Linked DNA regions of Homo sapiens. The protein of the gene in region 2 interacts with the protein of the main gene of each other region in a pairwise test. Each region holds a gene or a part of one and is shown on either strand. Other genes may lie near its edges.

Evidence for each region. Proteins that work in one complex are often made in the same cells at the same time.
Region 1: the proteins of FAM161B (region 2) and ANKRD23 interact in binary tests that used the Homo sapiens proteins (3 or more experiments, as listed by UniProt).
Region 3: the proteins of FAM161B (region 2) and SH3BP5L interact in binary tests that used the Homo sapiens proteins (3 or more experiments, as listed by UniProt).
Region 4: the proteins of FAM161B (region 2) and TSNAXIP1 interact in binary tests that used the Homo sapiens proteins (3 or more experiments, as listed by UniProt).

The regions. Positions count from the first base shown.
Region 1 is NC_000002.12:96,840,847-96,845,986, reverse strand, and holds the start of ANKRD23 (ankyrin repeat domain-containing protein 23), read left to right. Parts: upstream 1-1,965; 5' UTR 1,966-1,994; coding exon 1,995-2,021; intron 2,022-3,475; coding exon 3,476-3,622; intron 3,623-3,801; coding exon 3,802-3,927; intron 3,928-5,074; coding exon 5,075-5,140. UniProt on the Homo sapiens protein: May be involved in the energy metabolism. Could be a molecular link between myofibrillar stretch-induced signaling pathways and muscle gene expression.
Region 2 is NC_000014.9:73,935,856-73,940,485, reverse strand, and holds part of FAM161B (protein FAM161B), read left to right. Parts: intron 1-2,373; coding exon 2,374-2,538; intron 2,539-2,784; coding exon 2,785-2,884; intron 2,885-4,397; coding exon 4,398-4,537; intron 4,538-4,630.
Region 3 is NC_000001.11:248,815,541-248,820,170, forward strand, and holds part of SH3BP5L (SH3 domain-binding protein 5-like), read right to left. Parts: intron 1,345-4,630; coding exon 1,282-1,344; intron 1,123-1,281; coding exon 994-1,122; intron 1-993. UniProt on the Homo sapiens protein: Functions as a guanine nucleotide exchange factor (GEF) for RAB11A.
Region 4 is NC_000016.10:67,809,134-67,813,763, forward strand, and holds part of TSNAXIP1 (translin-associated factor X-interacting protein 1), read left to right. Parts: intron 1-4,630. UniProt on the Homo sapiens protein: Possible role in spermatogenesis.

The DNA of each region.
Region 1 (5,140 bases), on a different chromosome or scaffold from region 2:
TAGCTGGGACTACAGGTGCCTGGCTAATTTTTATATTTTTAGTAGAGACGGGGTTTCACCATGTTGGCCAGGCTGGTCTCGAACTCTTGACCTCAGGTGATCTGCCCACCTCAGCCTCCCAAAGTACTGGGATTACAGGTGTGAGCCACCACGCCCGGCCCCTTTGCCCTCATTTTAGATGACTCTTTCCCTCCTCATAACCAAAAGCAAGGAACAGGCTGGGTGTCACCTGAGGTCAGGAGTTTGAGACCAGCTTGACCAACATGGAGAAGCCCCATCTCTACTAAAAATACAAAATTAGCCAGGGTGATGGCACGTGCCTGTAACCCCAGCTACTCGGGAGGCTGAGGCAGGAGAATCACTTGAACCGGGGAGGTGGAGGTTGCGGTGAGCCAAGATCGCGCCATTGCACTCCAGCCTGGGCACCAAGAGTGAAACTCCATCTCAAAAAGAAAAAAAAAAAAAAAAGCAAGGAACACCTTTGTCTGAAAAAAGCACCCTAAATTTAGCCTAAGAACTAAGTTTTCAGCTGGGCGCGATAGCACAAGCCTGTAATCCCAGCACTCTGGGAGGCTGAGGCGGGTGAATCACAAGGTCAGGAGTTCAGGACCAGCCTGGCCAACATGGTGAAACACCGTCTCTACTAAAAATATAAAAAATTAGCTGGGCATAGTGGCAGGTGCCTGTAATCCCAGCTACTCGGGAGGCTGAGGCAGGAGAATTGCTTGAACCCGGGAGGTGGAGGTTGCAGTGAGCTGAGATCGCGCCACTGCACTCTAGCCCAGGCCACAGAGCGAGATTCCGTCTCAAAAAATTAAAAAAAAAAAGAAAACTTTTTTTTTTTTTTTTTTTTAGACGGAGTCTCACTGTTGCCGGGCCAAGAACTGAGTTTTCTAAGAAAGCTCTGCCTTTTCCTGAGTTCTCTGAAAATGTGGAAGCCCTTCCAAGAGGCCAGTTCTTTGGGAGCTGGGGAGCCATCTGGGGCCTGTGGCCATCCTTGGCCACAGTTCTCCCTCCTTGTACCCTGGTCATGTCTTCTCAGGTTGCTCCGATTTTGGGGTCTTATTTACTGGCTGATTTCCTTGCAAAGGCCAAGGCGGAGTTCAAGGTTCAGCTGGGTGAAGGGCATGCCTGGCTTCCTGAGAATTAGGAAGGGTGACTGATGGCTTGAGACACATTGCTCTGCGGCTGGATTTCATGGTTACTATTCCATCCCGGGACCTGACGCGGATCAGTCTCCCCTTTCCTGTGGCTGGAGGGGCACACTCCGTCCCTGGAGAGCGTCTGGTAGGGGCTTGTAGAGGGGCGGGGAGGACTTCCAGAGGCCCGAGGACAGGCGCCAGGCTTGGCTTCGGGGCTGGGGCAGCTGCCATGTGCTCTCAGAGCACTGAGGGAGGAGCGGGGGAGCCCGGGGGCGAGAAACCCACAGCACAGGGAAGGGAAGGGCAGCCTTGAAACTGCAAGTTGGGAGATCACGGTTTCCTCACGTGGCCACCATGAGGGCTGAGGCTGTAGGCTGGCCGCTCCTGCCCCTCCCGACCACCCCCTCAGGCTTCCAGCCTCCTTGCTCAGCCACCTAGGCTGGGCTTTCAGGTTCACAGGCAGCCGGCCCTACAACATGGAGGCCCAGGCTGGGCTTTCTTCAGGAGTGGCATCTAAACTTAGGAGAGGGGAACACGTTTCACCCGAATCTGGGCTAGCAGTGTGTTGGTTAAATGGCCCCTGAGTAGGTGTGGGGCATGGCAGAGGTGCAGGAGTGGGTGTCCGAGGATGCAGCCAACTCATCTCCAAACAGCTCCTTTTCTTTTCCCCAGTGGGCTGCATTCCCAGACTGGTATTTTAGTTGGTGTGACAGAGTCCCAGAGTCATCTGGCCCAGGGGCTTGCACCTGCGCCAGTCCTTCCCTGTCCACCCCTGCCCGTCTCCAGGCGCTCCTATAAAGGGCTGAGCAGTTCAGCTCTTCTCACTGGGGGGTGTGAGGAACAGGGGGGACCATGGACTTCATCAGCATTCAGCAGTTGGTAAGGATGTGGGACGGAGGTGGGAGGCACCCTGGGACCGGCTTGATAGGAGGAGGCTGGCTAGAGAGGGCTGGCAGCTTCTTTCTGTGGTGTGAGGGTCAAGTCTTAGGTGCAGGGAAGCATGCAGTTCTTTTATAAAAATCTGTATTTTTTGAAACGGAGTCTTGCTGTGTTGCCCAGCCTGGCCTTGAAGTCCCACGCTCAAGTGATCCTCCCACCTGGGCCTCCCAAGTAGCTGGGACTCCAGGCGTGTACCCCCACACCCGGCTGAGCGTGCGGTTCTTTCTGGTGTGTCTGCTCGGTTCTCATGTGAGGTGGTGAGGGGGTTAGGGAGCAAGAGAGGGAAGTCGAATGGGAAAGAAGACATGAAAATCCTTGAGTTCAGTGAGTTTTGCCCTGGATAGTGATGGTGAAAGAGGAACAGGAAATGGCAGGTTACTTTGGAAGATGCAAGTGTGGCTGTGGTGGTTGTAGTTCAGCTTAAGCACCATGATAGTTGTTGCTCTGGAAATGGCCAGAGGTCCTGGCTGCCTTGGGGATAGGGAAGGGTGCTCTTTCGCTCCCTGGGCAGTGAGGGAAACAGTGACTCTTAGGGATGTCGGTTTGAGTGACGAGGGGCCTGGAGGGTGTGAGGCCCAGCAAGCCCATCTGTGGGCTGCTGGCCCCAGCCTGGTGCAGCCTCTGGCGGGAGGCAAATGGCAGGGAGGTGTTAGGTTGCTAGAGTTCTTTAGAAGGAATATGGTTCTACCTGACTAGAAAGTCCTAGGATCTGTTACCCTATCATTCCACCCTGTTCTTTCCCCACAACAGGCTGATTCCTCAGTGCTCCCCAGCTCCTGAACTCCTGAGGTGGGGCCCGGTGGGAGGAAGCATGGGTGTTTGCTACGGAGGCTTTGCCCCAGGCACAGGTCCCAATAACTCATAACCTTCACAACTCCTTTAGGCAATTGCCTTAAGTGTTTGAGCTTAAATGTAGCTTCAAAAGGAGCCGAGAACTGAACCCAGGCATTTAGAATTTTACCCCGGGGGGACTTCTCTGTCCCTCTGAGCTTGGAGTCAGGTGGCAGTCAGTATGATCTGGTAGGAATCTTAACAACATGGGGGAAGCTAAGGTGTCATCTGCCCTGAGGCTACCTGGGCAAATGCCCAGCAGTATAAATAGGTTGTGGCCTCATGTCCCCCCAGCTGTGTTCCTGCTGACAGGAGCAGGGTAGGCGGGGATCCGTTGTCCCCCTGGGTGTCAGCTGATGACACAGTTGCGGAGCCTGCAGCACCCACAGGGTGAGGGAGCTTGCCAGCACTCTGGACTGCAGGAGCTTTGAGGCCGGCTCCCATCCCGGGCACCAGCCTTGTGACATCTGCCCTTATAAGACAGCTCCCTGCTACTCCACAGCTCTGTTTTCTAAGGGTTCCTCCAATTTTCCCAACTCAGTACTCATATCCTGTTCCTACAGGTAAGTGGAGAAAGAGTTGAAGGGAAAGTGTTGGGATTTGGACATGGAGTTCCTGACCCTGGAGCCTGGCCTAGTGACTGGAGGAGGGGCCCCCAAGAGGCTGTGGCCCGGGAGAAGCTGAAATTGGAAGAAGAGAAGAAGAAGAAAGTGAGAGAGGGGCGGGGGCCGGGGTTGGGGGCAGTGGCTAATCCCTGAGGCCGGCTGAGCAGTGAGGCCTGGAGGGACTCTGGTGGGGCAGCCTGAGCAGCTGGTGTCTCCTGTCGGCAGGGCAGAGAGATCTCTTGACCAGCGGCTGATGGCTGGCATGGTCTTGTCTTCTGCCCCAGCTTGAAAGATTTAACAGTACCAGATTTAATCTGGATAACCTGGCTGACTTGGAAAACTTGGTTCAAAGACGGAAAAAGCGACTGAGACACAGAGTCCCCCCCAGGAAACCTGAGCCCCTGGTTAAGGTGAGTGGGAGGTCGGGGTTAGGGCAGTGCACACACCAGGGCTCCAGTTCCAGAGGAAGGGCTTGGGGCAGAGTGGGCACTGCAGGCCAGGACCACACAGCCAGTGCCTGGGGAGCCCATTAAATCCACTCCAGAGCCCCCGCGGATGTGTCCGCCAGGGCTGCCATAACAAAGTCCCACAGCCTGGACAGCCTCAACAGCAGGCATGTGTCACCTCGCTGTCCTGGGGGCTGGAAGGCTAACAGGAAGGTGTTGGCGAGGCTGGTTCCCTCTGAGGGTGGTGAGGGAGAATCCCTTCATGCCTCTCCGGCTTCTGGTGGATGCTGGTGATCTTTGGCGTTCCTTGGCTTGTAGATGTATCACCCAACTATTGCCTTCATGTTTGCTGGGCGTTCTGCCTGTGTGCATGCCTGTGTCCATGTGTCTCCCCCAACTTTTTTTTTTTTTTTTTTTTTTTTTTTGAGACGGAGTCTCGCTCTGTTGCCCAGGCTGGAGAGCAGTGGCACGATCTCGGATTACTGCAAGCTCTGCCTCCCGGGTTCATGCCATTCTCCTGCCTCAGCCTCCCGAGTAGCTGGGACCACAGGCACCCGCCACCACGCCCGGCTAATTTTTTTTTGTATTTTTAGTAGAGATGGGGTTTCACCGTGTTAGCCAGGATGGTCTCAATCTCCTGTCCTTGTGGTCTGCCCGCCTCAGCCTCCCAAAGTGCTGGGATTACAGGCATGAGCCACCGCATCCGGCCCACGTGTCCCCTTTCATAAGGACATCAGTCACATTGGATTAGAGCCCACTTTAACACAAGTCATATTGGTGAGGGGCCCACCATACGCCGGTGTGACCTCATCTTAACTAATTACATCCTCAGTGACTCTGTTTCCAAATAAGGTCACATTCTGAGGTACCTGGGGTTAGTACTTCATACGAATCTTGGGGAGATACAAGTCAATCCATAACACACACGCTCACACACACACAGTCTATTCAATCTCCTGGCGTGGGATTAGAATAAGAAACTGCATTAGTACGAGCCAGCAGTGTTCCTTGGTGGGCTGCATGGGACCCGTGGGCCAGACTGGTGAAGCTGTGACATCTTGGGCACCTGCGGCCTTCGGGAGTGATTTGGTCTTGTCTTCAACTGAACCAGCCGCAGTCCCAGGCCCAGGTGGAGCCTGTGGGCCTGGAGATGTTCCTGAAGGCAGCTGCTGAGAAC
Region 2 (4,630 bases):
AGCCTGGAGAGAAGGAAGGTTCCAGACAGAGAGAACATGGATAAAAGCCCATGGGTGAGAGGAAGGGAGTAGTGAGGAACAAGAATTCAGAGAAGCATGCTAGCAGGTGGCTGAAGTTGCCGCAAATATGAGACATCCATTGCATAGATTTGAGATTCTCTGAGATTCATCTTGGGAAGATGTCAGAGTCTGTTGGGCAGCAAGAGCCTGCTTATTTTTAACTCTTCAACTGACCTGATTCTGTTATGATGTTCTCATTAAGCCAGCCCCCAGCAAGGGTTCTTCCACCAGGCTTCTGAGCTGAAGTAGGCAAGAGAGGTCATGGTGTAACAGCAGCTTAGGCCAGGGAGAGGACTAATGTCTTACTGCCTTCCCATGGGGCATGTAGGGGAGTACTCAGAACCTACTTGGATCGTTAAGCCCCACAGCAGGGATTGTAGAAGAGTATTTACGGTCCAAGGGATACTCCTTTCTTCTTCAGACTTCAGTTAGACCTACTAAATCAGGGCTAATTAATTGCTCAGTATCCTGAGGGCCCAAGAACACAGGCCTCCTGAACAAAGAGGCTGGCCTTCCTATAGAGGACATCCACATCTGCTTTCCAGCCACAGGGAATCTGACATATTAACAGATTAAATTTTCATGTCCTTCTTCCCAGTATGTCCATTTGAATATAAACATCCAAATATAAGAGTCTTGGTTGATTTTCCTTTTGGAAGAACTCAACATATTACTTTGTAGATAACTGAACAAACTAAGTGCTACAAGTTGAACCCAAATAGTCTGCACTGAGGGAGGCTCATTTCCAGTTCTCTCTGAATGTGCAGATTTGTATTCCCAAAGGACCATGAACCCAGACACCTTCCAGCCCACTGTTTCCAGCAGAGTGGTCAAGGCCAGAGGCTTCGGAGTCAGAGGTCCTGGTCCAATAGGGGCTTTTCCACTGGCATGCTGGGTAGCTTTGAGCAAGGGGCTTACCTCCTTTGAGCCTCAATCACCTCCCCTATAAAAAGGGAATTTAGTATTTACCTCATAAGGCAGTTATGAGGACAATGTGAAATGTAATGGTACTTGGTTCATAATAAGGAGCTCAGTAAATGGTAGCTATTAGTATTATTTTGTATCCAGATAGGCGAAGACCTATTGAATGTTGGACTGTTTAAGTAAGGATATATATATTTTTTTTCGAGACAGAGTCTTGCTCTGTCGCCCATGCTGGAGTGCAATGGCGCAATCTCAGCTCACTGCAACCTCTGCCTCCCGGGTTTAGTGATTCTCCTGCCTCAGCCTCCCAAGTAGCTGGGATTACCGGCACGTGCCACTACACCCAGCTAATTTTTTTTGTAGTTTTGGTAGAGACAGGGTTTCACCATGTTGACCAGGCTGGTCTCGAACTCCTGACCTTGTGATCAGCCCGCCTCAGCCTCCCAAAGTGCTGAGATTACAGCCATGAGCCACCGTGCCCGACCTAAGTAAGGATATTTTAACTGACGTTTCTCCAGTTCAGTAAATGCACTTCTAGGGTAGGAACTCACTGTGTCCCTAGTGCTGGAAAGGCTTCATCTGCCAGTGCATTTAATCCTAGAATTTTATTATTTTTAAAAATGGCAGTTGAGGTAAATTACATGCCCCATTCATTAAAAACACCAACTTACTTTCCAGAAAAGGTTACTAAGATTGCTTTATTTTATTTATTTATTTATTATTATTTTTTGAGACGGAGTCTCTCACTGTCGCCCAGGCTGGAGTGCAGTGGCACGATCTCGGCTCACTGCAAGCTCCGCCTCCCAGGTTCATGCCATTCTCCTGCCTCAGCCTCCCGAGTAGCTGGGACTACAGGCGCCCACCACCGCACCCGGCTAATTTTTTGTATTTTTAGTAGAGATGGGGTTTCACAGTGTTAGCCAGGATAGTCTCGATCTCCTGACCTTGTGATCCGCCCGCCTCGGCCTCCCAAAGTGCTGGGATTACAGGCATGAGCCACCATGCCCGGCTATTTTATTTTATTTTATTATTATTATTATTTTTGAGACGGAATTTGATCTGTCGCCCAGGCTGGAGTGCAGCAGTGCGATCTTGGCTTATTGCAACCTCTGCCTCCCGGGTTCAAGCGATTCTCTTGCCTCAGCCTCCCGAGTAGTTGGGATTACAGGTGCACACCACCATGCCCAGCTAATTTTTGTATTTTTAGTAGAGCTGGGGTTTCACCGTATTGGCCAGGCTGGTCTTGGACTCCTGACCTCAGGTGATCCACCTGCCTTGGCCTCCCAAAGTGCTAGGACTACAAGTGTGAGCCACCACACCTGGCCTAAGATTGCTTTTCAGTATACCCAGGTTGGTAATCTATACTCTTTTTCTGCCTCCTTCCTTTAGAAGTGCACTTGAAAAAAAGAACAAAGCAGATGAGAGTATTCAGTGGCTGGAGATACACAAAAAGAAGTCTCAAGCAATGTCCAAATCTGTGACCTTGCGTGCAAAAGCCATGGATCCCCATAAAAGCCTGGAGGAAGTGTTCAAAGCAAAGCTGAAAGAGAACCGGTCAGTGTCCTCTATGTGTCAAAAGGGGTGCTTGCCTTGGGATCCAACAGACCACTGGCCTATTGCCAGAAAATGCAAAATAGAGTTATCGAGGTAGGTAGGCTCCTGTAATCACAGCAGGGTCATGATTTTCCAAGTCAGATAGGAATTTACAGTGTACACGAGAGTTACACTGCTTTACTGGAAATGAAGGGTATTCTGGATTAGAAAAGATGAAATTCTTTCTAAAAGTCTTGCTAATTCCAGGAACAATGACCGTAAAAGAGCGAAAGAATATAAGAAAGAACTGGAGGAAATGAAGCAGCGAATACAAACAAGGCCCTATCTCTTTGAACAAGTTGCCAAGGTAAAACTAAACCATCATTTGTTTTCTTTCTGCCTTAGATAAAAGGACTCTGAAAAATTACAAAACAATTTTAATATGTGGGTATTAAAATTTTCCTTGAGGCCCAGAAATTCTAATTTCACTACTACCTTCTTTTCCCAAAATAAATAGTACAATAGAGAATGCTGCTTGTGTTGATTTCATCCAAGAGTGGACTCCAAAGGCATCGATAAAGGGATATTTCACTTCCTAGAGCTTTCACTGTAGTCTACCATTCAGATTTCATCAGACTGGGCATTAGACCCCAGAGACACAGGGACCATTTGGCTCTTTCTATGCTCTGGAGCCACTGTTCACAGTGCTGGAAAGGTATCTCTCCTCTGGCAGTGCTGCTGGCCCTGGGCCTCCCCAGCCTCTAGAGCTGTGGTATATTTATAGGTCTCCAAGCATTAGGATGCCCACAAACACCCTGCAAGGCTTTCTCTAGACTAAGTGGCTTTCAGGCTGGAAGCCTGAAATTTTTTTTTCTTCTTTTATTTTGTATGCATGTGTATGTGTGTGTGAGTGTGTGTTCCTTATGGAGCAGGGCTAACCCATAGGCAGTGTACCCGAAGTATCCTGGAAGAGTATCATTTTAAGATATTCTCTGTAGACTTTTAGGGATGTTGGACTCAGCTGAGATCTCCGTAAGGATGTAAGGATGCTCTGTTTCTACTGCATTAGGCTCTGTGGATCTCTTTCCTCTCCAGTTTCAGACAAGTTGGGGTTCCATAGTGACCTAGTTCCAATGGCAGGGCATTAGCTCCATCTTATAGTTAGTACATTGTCTAGGCATTTGCTGGCTCCACTTCCTCCTCCCTCCATAAATCTTTCTCCTCTCACACACATAAGCACACATGGTCTTGGATTTACTTAGCAACCTGCATTGTTCAAAATCTCATGCTTCTTTATGTTAATGTTAAGCAAGCTCACTCTTCAGATCTCAACAGATCTTTCACCTCTCTAGGAAAAATACAAAGTACTCTATGATTTTGTTCTTGAATACTTAAACAAAAAATAATATTCTGCTGGTCCACATGCAGACCATCTGTCCTTCCACTAAGAGTCTTGGTGTAGCTTATTTTCTATTTTATTTTAGTGTTCCTGATAATGGTTTGTTGCTTTAAAATCTTAGGTTTTTAGTCCATCCTTTTAAATCTGGGTCTCATTTGTCTCCCAAAAGTCTAAGTCATTGCTTTTCAAAATTGTGACTCCCAAATCAACAGTTTGGCATCTCTGGGGAGTGTTAGAAATACAGAATTACAGTCCTCATCTGACACCTACCAAATGTGAAATCTGCATTTTAACAAGACCTCAGGTGATTTATATACACATTAAGGCTGGAAAACAAGGGTTAAATAATTTTCTTGCAAATCTATGCCCCACAATAAGGGTGGTGGTGGTTGTGGCAGTATTGTAACAATACTGATTAAGTAATTTAGAATTGTCTGGTAATTCATAAGACAGCTACAACAGATTAATTTCCATCCCACAGGATCTAGCCAAGAAAGAAGCAGAACAGTGGTATCTAGACACCCTGAAGCAGGCTGGGCTGGAGGAAGACTTTGTGAGAAACAAGGGTCAAGGCACCCGGGCTGTTCAAGAGAAAGAGACCAAAATCAAGGATTTTCCCAGGTAACCTGAAATGTTGCTGTCATTCTGCAGCTCTCTAAATTGTCATACCCAGTAATACCACTGGGAGGAAACTTTAGAATAGCCACTGGTATT
Region 3 (4,630 bases), on a different chromosome or scaffold from region 2:
TCCAGGGCTAATTCCTAGAAACAGTAAACTCCCCTGTAAGTGTGCCTTTCATATGCAAACCAACCACCTAATCCAAAGCCTGGATCCCCAGCTAACTCCTTTACCTACTTCTCCCCGACCAAGCCGATATTTCCTCTGCCCTAAGTCATCCCAGGGCCAGGTACTAGACAATTAGAGGCCGCCCCTATAGCCCAGGGCCTAGCAAAGTTATTCCAACTATCCACTCCTAAACTTATCCAAACTTGCCTACCCTGCCTCACCTACTCCTTTCCACGAAAACCACACTAAGGCGCTGCGCTTTGCTTTCTCCTTCACTTCTGCCTCCTGAAGGACCCTGGCTGCTTCCCCGTGTGGCCCTGCATGGCATGGATGTCCCCTCCTCTCGGGAACAAACTCTTCTTCCAAGGCAGTTGTCTGTATCTGTCACCTCACCATACAGGATGACAACAAATCCCAGGAAACAAAATGCATGAAACGTGCATGGTAGGATTTTGGGTGATTTTTGTTTCCTTCTTGTTTTATTATGTTTTTCCAATGGTGAACACATATTATTTGTTAAAAGTAATTTGTTACAGAAAAAAGGGGTGTGGGATGGGGAAAAGAGTGAGGAGTAAGCAAAGAAAAGATTCAGAAGAGAGACATGAACCAAAGGGAAGAGGAAATGGGCGCAGATGAAAACAACAGGATGTTAGAACTGACATATCTGATATACCCTAAAGCCTGATTCCTGATACACAGAAGGCACTTAAACATTAGCAGGGCTGAACTAAATATTCTCCCACAGCCACCCTCACCATTTTATAGACCATAAGCCCAGAGCCCACGTGGTAAAGGAACCTCCTGAGCCCACAGAGCTGGTTCCGACCAGCCAGGTCTAGCCCAGGGCTCTGCCCTCAGGGTCTGGTGTTTTGTCTCTCACTCCATATAGAGACAGAAGAATCCAGGGCCAGGCTCAGCACGTAGCCTTCCTCAAACGTGGTCAGCCAGCCATACCTCCTTAGCCAGCCGCCGAGCCTCATAGTAGGGCCGGGCTTTCTCGATGCAGCTCCCCAAGTGGGAACCCTGTGTATTCAGTTTCCTCGCCGACTCCTGTAGGATCCTCCGATAGGTGGTCCTGGCCTCCTGGAAAGGAACAAGGCAGAGGAAAGGCACATGTTTGGGTCCCAGCCCCTCTTGTTTCTCAGACACACCCCTCCCACCGCCACTGCCTCAATCTGGGAAAGAGACAGATGGAGATACTTCCAAGGACCAGCCCAAGCACATAAGGAAAAGGACACTCACATCCAGCTGTAGTTCCACCTGGTTGATCTCCTCGCTGGCCTGGTTCAGGTGCTCCAACTCCTCCTGCCACAGAGAGGGGTGGCAAATTAGTGCAGTGGAAGGAAGTAGCCTTGAATGAACCATGCAAGGCAGGAGCAACACAGAGAGAGAGAGCCCCACTTGCCCAGGGAAATGAGGTGAGACACTCAGGAAAGGAAAGAAGATACGGAGATTGCCAAAAGCTTTCTTGTCTATCAGGGACCTGATACATACAATCTCACGTAATCCTCACAACTCTACCTTGTATTGGGTAGTAAAACCCCAGTTTCAAGGATGAAGAAATTGAGGTTTGGAGAATGCAACACTAATATGCACAACGTGAAGTTGTGGTGAGCCCTCACTCTCTCCGTGAGATTGCAACACTTCCTCAAACTGAGGGAGTCTCCTTGGACCTGAAGGCTCGCTCTCTGCGAGAGGATGGCCACCTGGGCCAGGGCAGGGCCACTCAGTCAGCACATGTTTACTGCACACTTATCACCTCTCAGGACCGTGAGACCTGAGAATTCAGGACATAGAGGTGGCAGCCTGTAAGGAAACCCAGCAAGTCAGCAGCAGGTCCTGGGCAGTATGTGCAGCCTTGTGAGGGGTGGGTGTGGGTGCTCTCTGGGTAGCAAGGTCACCTAATTGGGCAGCAGAAGGTCAGGGTAGGATGCCTGGAACACTTGCTCAGCAGCTGGAAGGACTTCATAGACACAAAAGTGCCAGTGAATGACTAGGCAAGGTGGCTCACGCCTGTAATCCCAGCACTTTGGGAGGCCGAGGCAGGCAGATCACCTGAGGTCAGGAGTTTGAGACCAGCCTGGGCAACATGGTGAAACCCTGTCTCTACTAGAAATACAAAAATTAGCCGGGTGTGGCAGCGTGCACCTATAGTCCCAGCTACTTGGGAGGCTGAGGCAGGAGAATCACTTGAACCTGGGAGGCAGAGGCTGCAGTGAGCCAAGATCACACTACTGCACTCCAGCCTGGGCAACATAGCGAGACTCTGTCTCAAAAAAATAAAGTGCCAGTGAAGAACAAAGGGCCAAGGAACCAAAGGGGAGCAGGTACCCTGGGCAGACAAGTTGGCAGGTGAGAAGGTCAGTAAGGCTACAGCACTATGGGAGGTAGTACCAGGACTTTCTGCAATGGCAAAAGGGTCTCTCAGAGCCTGGTGCCAATGTAACGAAAGCCTGGGGGAGCCAGGGAGACAAAAGTGGAGGCTGGGACAGGCATGGTGGCTCACACCTGTAATCCCAGCACTTTGGGAGGCAGAGGTGGGCAGATCACTTGAGGCCAGGAGTTCAAGACCGGCCTGGCCAACATGGTGAAGCCCTGTCTCTAGCAAAAACACAAAAATTAGCTGGGCGTGGTGGCACACATCTATAATCCCAGCTACTTGGGAGGCCGAGGCACGAAAATGGCTTGAACCCGGGGGGCAGGGATTGCAGTAAGCCCAGATCGTGCCACTGCACTCCAGCCTAGGCGACACAGTGAGACTCCATCACAAAAACAAAAAACAAACAAAAAAAAAAAGGTGGAGGCTGTCTATAGTATTCCAGGTGGCAGAGGAGAGGGCAGATCCCAAGGCAACGCAGGACACAGAATCACAGGGGCTTGGTGGATGACTAAGGTCAAGATCAGGAAAGTGTATAGAGTCCAAGAAGCCTTTTGGCCTGCTTGGGCAATGGGTGACCATGACCGCAGGTCCCTATAGAGCAGATCCTGTGGGAGGGAGGGAGAGTCCTGGGGAAAAGTTGCTGGACAAGCTGGTTTGAGTGCCTTCCTGGCCCCTGGAAGGACTGGAGAGAGAAGCAATAGAACCATCCAGGGCTTTCCATGAAATGGAAGAGAGCTGAGAGGGGTACTGGCCTCAAGTCATCCTCCCTTGCCCGAGAAAACACAAAAGTTCCCAGAGCCCCTGGTGAGCTAAGGACACTACTGAGGAGCAGTGCTGGTCTGTGCCAAGGGCCTTGTGCCAGGAAATACCTGGTGCCTAGCTATAGGATTTGCCTTCACCAGCCCCTGCTGTCTCTGGACAGGAGGCTGGACAGGCCAGAGAGACCCAGCCCAGCATGTGCCTGCTGCCCAGACCCATGACTTGCACTTGGCAGTGACACCACAATCACTTCCCACTCATATGGCCGTGATGTTGGCCCCCACTCACCTCATTCGGGCCTTTCAGCAACCCAGTGAGGGAGTCAGGCTGACATGCACAATCTTCCTTTTAGTCCCTTCTACCTCTTCTATCCTCCCCCCATCCCCTGCCTTGATCCTGAAAAGATCTGGGTCAGCAGGTAAGAATACAGGAAATGGTTTGACATGTTAATTACAGTAACAGGAAGAACACAAAGGTAGAAACCTGTAATGGAACGAGGAATGAGGATATGAAAATGCACACACCTACCTACAACAGTGTAGACCCTGCCTAAGGAGGGCCACAAATCTGGCTCTAAACTAGGGATGTCCAATCTTTTTGCTTCCCTGGGACACACTGGAAGAAGAACTGTCCTGGGCCACACATAAAATACACTAACACTAACTACAGCTGATGAGCTTAAAAAAAAAAAAAAAAATCGTGGGCAGGCGCAGTGGCTCACACCTGTAATCCTAGCACTTCAGGAGGCCGAGGTGGGAAGATTGCCTGAGCTCAGGAGTTTGAGAACAGCCTGGGCAACATGATGCAAAGCCCATCTCTACTAAAATACAAAAAAATAGCTGGGTATGGTGGCACACACCTGTAGTCCCAGCTACTGGGACGGCTGAGGCAGGAGAATCACCTGAATCTGGGAGGCGGAAGTTGCAGTGGTCTGAGATTGTGCCACTGCACTCCAGCCTGGGTGAAGGAGCAAGACTCAGTCTCAAAAAAAAAAAAAAAAAAAAAAAATCACAAAAAAAAATCTCATAATGTTTTAAGAAAAGTTTACAAATTTGCATTGGGCCGTGTTCAAAGCCATCCTGGGCTGCATGCGGCCCACAGGCCACGGGTTGGAAAAGCTTGCTCTAAATTTTCTCGAAGAGACTTATTCAACAGAAACGTAACAGGAGCTGCACATGGAATTTTTAATTCTAGAAGCCACATTTTTTAAAAGTAAAAAAATTTAAAAAAAGAGTGAAATTATAAAAATACATTTAACCCAATATATACAAAATATATTTCAACATGTGATCAACATAAAATAATATTATTATCCATACTTTTACTTTTTTAAACTAAGTCTTCACAATCCGTATGCACTTGACTCTTGTGACACATCTCAACCTAGACAGTGGCATGTGGCTCCTGTGTTGGGTGGCGAAGGTCTAGAAGTTGTTGTATTTGGGTAGATGC
Region 4 (4,630 bases), on a different chromosome or scaffold from region 2:
TGCCTTGTAGCCTGGGCAACAAAGCAAGACCCTGTCTATTAAAAAAAAAAAAATGGCCGGGCGTGGTGGCTCACGCCTGTAATCCCAGCACTTTGGGAGGCCAAGGTGCGCGGATCACGGGGTCAAAAGATCGAGACAATCCTGGCCAACATGGTAAAACCTTGTCTCTACTAAAAATACAAAAATTAGCCAGGTGTGGTGGCTTGCACCTGTAGTCCCAACTACTCGGGAGGCTGAGGCAGGAGAACCCAGGAGGTGGAGGTTGCAGTGAGCCCAGATCATGCCACTGCACTCCAGCCTGGCAGCAGAGTGAGACTCCATCTCAAAAAAAGAAAGAAAATCAGCCAGGCATGGTGACCTGTGCCTGTAATCCCAGCTATTCTGGAGGCTGAGGCACAAGAATTGCTTGAACCCAGGAGGAGGAGGTTGCAGTGAGCTGAGATCTTGCCACTGCATTCCAGCTGCCTGGGAGACACAGCAAGACTCCGTCTCAAAAAAAAATAAATAAATAAATAAATAAATAATACAGGCCGGGAGCAGTGAGTGGCTCATGCTTGTAATCCCAACACTTTAGGAGTCTGAGGTGGGTACATCATTTGGGGTCAGGAGTTCAAGACCAGCCTGGCCAACATAGTGAAACCCCATCTCTACTAAAAATACAAAAACTAGCCAGGCGGTAGTGGCATGCACCTGTAATCCCAGCTACTCAGGAGGCTGAAGCAGGAGAATCGCTTGAACCTGGGAGGCGGAGGTTGCAGTGAGCCGAGATCGGGCCACTGCACTCCAGTCCGGGCAAGAGAGTGAGACCCTGTCTCAAAAAATAGTAAATAAATAAAATTTAAAAAAAAATACAACATCATTAATCTACCATATTCCTTATTCACCAGCATTTAGTGATGTTGGGCCAGACTCACTGTTTCTCTTAGAGACACTGTGGATGTCCTCATCCTTTCCCTTTAAAAAGGGGCAGCATGATGGATAAGCTAGACCTTAGCACTGTGGAACATGTCATCAGGACCCTCTGCAAGGGACCTTCGAATTGTGCATTTTCCTGGGGCAGGTTTCTCCTCCCTATCGGCTTTTCTCCTTTCACCCTCATAACCCTGGCACTTGGTGGATGGAACTCAGCAGCTTGCGTTCACTGAATACCAAGATATAACCCTGACAAACCCACTGCCTACTACCACTTAAATAACTGAGCTTGAGGCCGGGTACGGTGGCTCACGTCTGTAATCCCAGCACTTTGGGAGGCCAAGGTGGGCAGATCATGAGGTCAGGAGTTCGAGACCAGCCTGACCAACACGGTGAAACCCCATCTCTACTAAAAATACAAAAATTAGCCGGGCTTGGTGGTGCTCACCTGCAATCCCAGCTACTTGGGAGGCAGAGGCAGGAGGATCACTTGAGCCCGGGAGGCAGAGGTTGCAGTGAGCCGAGGTCATGCTACTACACTCCTGCCTGGGCGACAGAGCCAGATTACGTCTTAAAAAAATAAAAATAAAAGTAAATAAATAACTGAGTTTGGTCCAGCTTTGAGGTAGAAATATAAATGTTTCCCATTCCCCTCTGAGGGTTACCATAAAATATTTAATATAAAACATCTTAAACTTTTTTTTTTTTTTGAGATGGAGTGTCTCACTCTATTGCCCAGGCTGGAGTGCAGTGGCATGATCTCAGCTCGCTGCAACCTCTGCCTCCCGGGTTCAAGCGATTCTCCTGCCCCAGCCTCCCTAGTAGCTGGGACTATAGGCGCGTGCCACCACACCTGGCTAATTTTTTGTATTTTTAGTAGACAGGGTTTCACCGTGTTAGCCAGGATGGTCTCGATCTCCTGACCTCATGTCTTTTGTTTTTTTTTTTTCCTTTTTCTGGAGAACGGGGTCTCGCTATATTGCCCAGGCAGGTCTCGAACTCCTGGGCTCAAGCTATCCTCCCGCCTCTTAGCCTCCCTGAGAGCTGGGATTACAGGCGTGAGCCACCGCGCCCGGCCGATCTCCTGACCTCATGATCTGCTCACCTCGGCCTCCCAAAGTGCTGGGATTACAGGTGTGAGCCATCACGCCCAAGCCCAAGCTTTTTGGATAAGTGTACAGGCCCTAGCAGGTGTTTGGTTTGCCTTGTTTTAAGTCTGTTTTATAATGTTGTCTCCTTTGATATTCAAAACTAACAACATCTGTTACCTACTGAACTTTTCCATTCAACAGCTTCTCAGAATTTATAGAATTCCCCAATTTTCTTGCTTACCTTGCCTTTCCTGGTGCTTCCAGCATGAGCAAGAACAGAGTTTGGAGAATTGATTAGTCTTTTTTTTTTTTTTTTTTTTTTTGAGACAGAGTCTCTCTGTGTTGCCCAAGCTGTAGTGCAGTGGCTCCATCTCGGCTCACTGCAACCTCCCACTCCCAGGTTCAAGAGATTCTCCTGCCTCAGCCTCCCGAGTAGCTGGGACTACAGGTGCCCGCCACCACACCCGGCTAATTTTTGTATTTTTTTAGTAGAGACAGGGTTTCACTATGTTGGCCAGGCTGGTCTTGAACTCCTGACCTCGTGATTTGCCCACCTCTCCCTCCCAAAGTGCTGGGATTACAGGCTTGAGCCACTGCACGGCGAATAATATATTAGTCTTGATAAGAAGGTATTGATTTAACCCAGTGAGCACTTGGGGTTGATCTGTTGTATCTTGTTGGTCTCCAAGACTGTCTCACACCCAAGCTCATCTGGGCAGACACTCTTCCTTCTCCTCACCGACTGCTTAATCCATATGTTTTGCTCACACTTGTCCAATGTTGAGAAGCAATAGAGGACTAGGGTTTGGAATATTACTGCTCCATGGACTATAGCTGAGCAGCATTACAGGGCAGAGTTTCTCAACTGGGTTCACATTAGGGCTCTCAACTTCCCTGGAGTTTGGGTAGTCCTAATCCTACTTTTATAAGCAAAGACACTGAGGTTCAGAGATGTTAAGCGGCATGCCCAAAATCACCAGCAAGCAAGAGGAGTGAACACAAGATCTATCTGGCAACATAAATCACACACCCCCACCCCATGGATTGTTGGAATTACTTCTTCCTTTTGTTCCACCTGAGCCTGCCTGCCCACAGTAGCCCTTCCTGTTGGTCCCCAAATGCCTTCCTAGGATGGCTGTTCTAAGAGGCTTTTCCTGTTCTACTGTCATAATGAACATCTATGCAGTTCATTGCAGTTTACATGGTATTTTGCATATCTCATTTTTTTTTATTTATTTAAAAAAAAATAGGCCGGGCACGGTGGCTCACACCCGTAATCCCAGCACTTTGGAAGGCTGAGGCGGGCAGATCACGAGGTCAGGAGATCGAGACCATCCTGGCCAACATGGTGAAACTCTATCTCTACTAAAAATACAAAAATTAGCCAGGCACGGTAGCGTGCACCTGTAGTCCCAGCTACTCAGGAGGCTGAGGCAAGAGAATTGCTTGAACCTGGGAGTCGGAGGCTGCAGTGAGCCGAGATCATGCCATTGCACTCCAGCCTGGGCAACAGAGTCAGACTCTGTCTCAAGAAAAAAAAAAAAATTGGCTAGGTACAGTGGCTCACGCCTGTAATCCCAGCACTTTGGGAGGCTGAGGCAGGCAGATCACCTGAGGTCAGGAGTTTGAAACCAGAAATAAATAAATAAATAAAAATAGAGGCAAAGTCTCACTATGTTGCTCAGGCTCATCTCGAACTCCTGGGCTCAAGCGATCTGCCCGCCTTGGCTTCCCAAAGTGCTGGGATTACAGGCATGAGCTACCACGCCCAGATGCACATCTAATTTTTTTTGTTTTGCTTTCAGACAGAGTTTTACTCTGTCACCCAGGCTGGAGTGCAGTGGTGCAATCTCGGCTCACTGCAACCTCCGCCTCCCAGATTCAAGTGATTCTTCTGCCTCAGCCTCCTGAGTAGCTGGAATTAGAGGCACCCGCCACCACACTCAGCTCATTCTTATTTAAACTTCAGGCCGGTCGCGGTGGCTTACGCCTGTAATCCCAGCAGTTTGGGAGGTGGACGTGGGTGGATCATTTGAGGTCAGGTGTTCAAGACCAGCCTGGCCAACATGGTGAAATCCCATCTCTACTAAAAATACAAAAATTAGCTGGGCATGGTGGCAGGGGCCTGTAGTCCCAGCTACTCAGGAAGCTGAGGAAGGAGAATTGCTTGAACCCAGGAGGTGAAGGTTGCAGTGAGCTGAGATGGCGCCACTGCACTCTACCCTGGGTGACAGAGTGAGACTGCATCTCAAAATAAATAAATAAATAAAATAAACTTCATAACTTTGTAAGATAGGCAAAGCAAGAGTTGTCCCTGGCCAGGCACAGTGGCTCACGCCTGTAATCCCAGCATTTTGGGAGGCCAAGGCAGGTGGATCATGAGGTCAGGAATTCAAGACCAGCCTGGCCAACATGGTGAAACCCCGTCTCTACTGAAAATACAAAAATTATCCATGCGTGGTGGCAGGTGCCTGTAATCCCAGCTACTCGGGATGCTGAGGCAGAGAATTGCTTGAACCCGCGAGATGGAGGTTGCAGTGAGCCAAGATCGCACCACTGCACTCCAGCCTGGGTGACAGGGTAAGACTCCGTCTCAAAAAAAAAAAAAAAAAAAAAAAAGAGTTGTC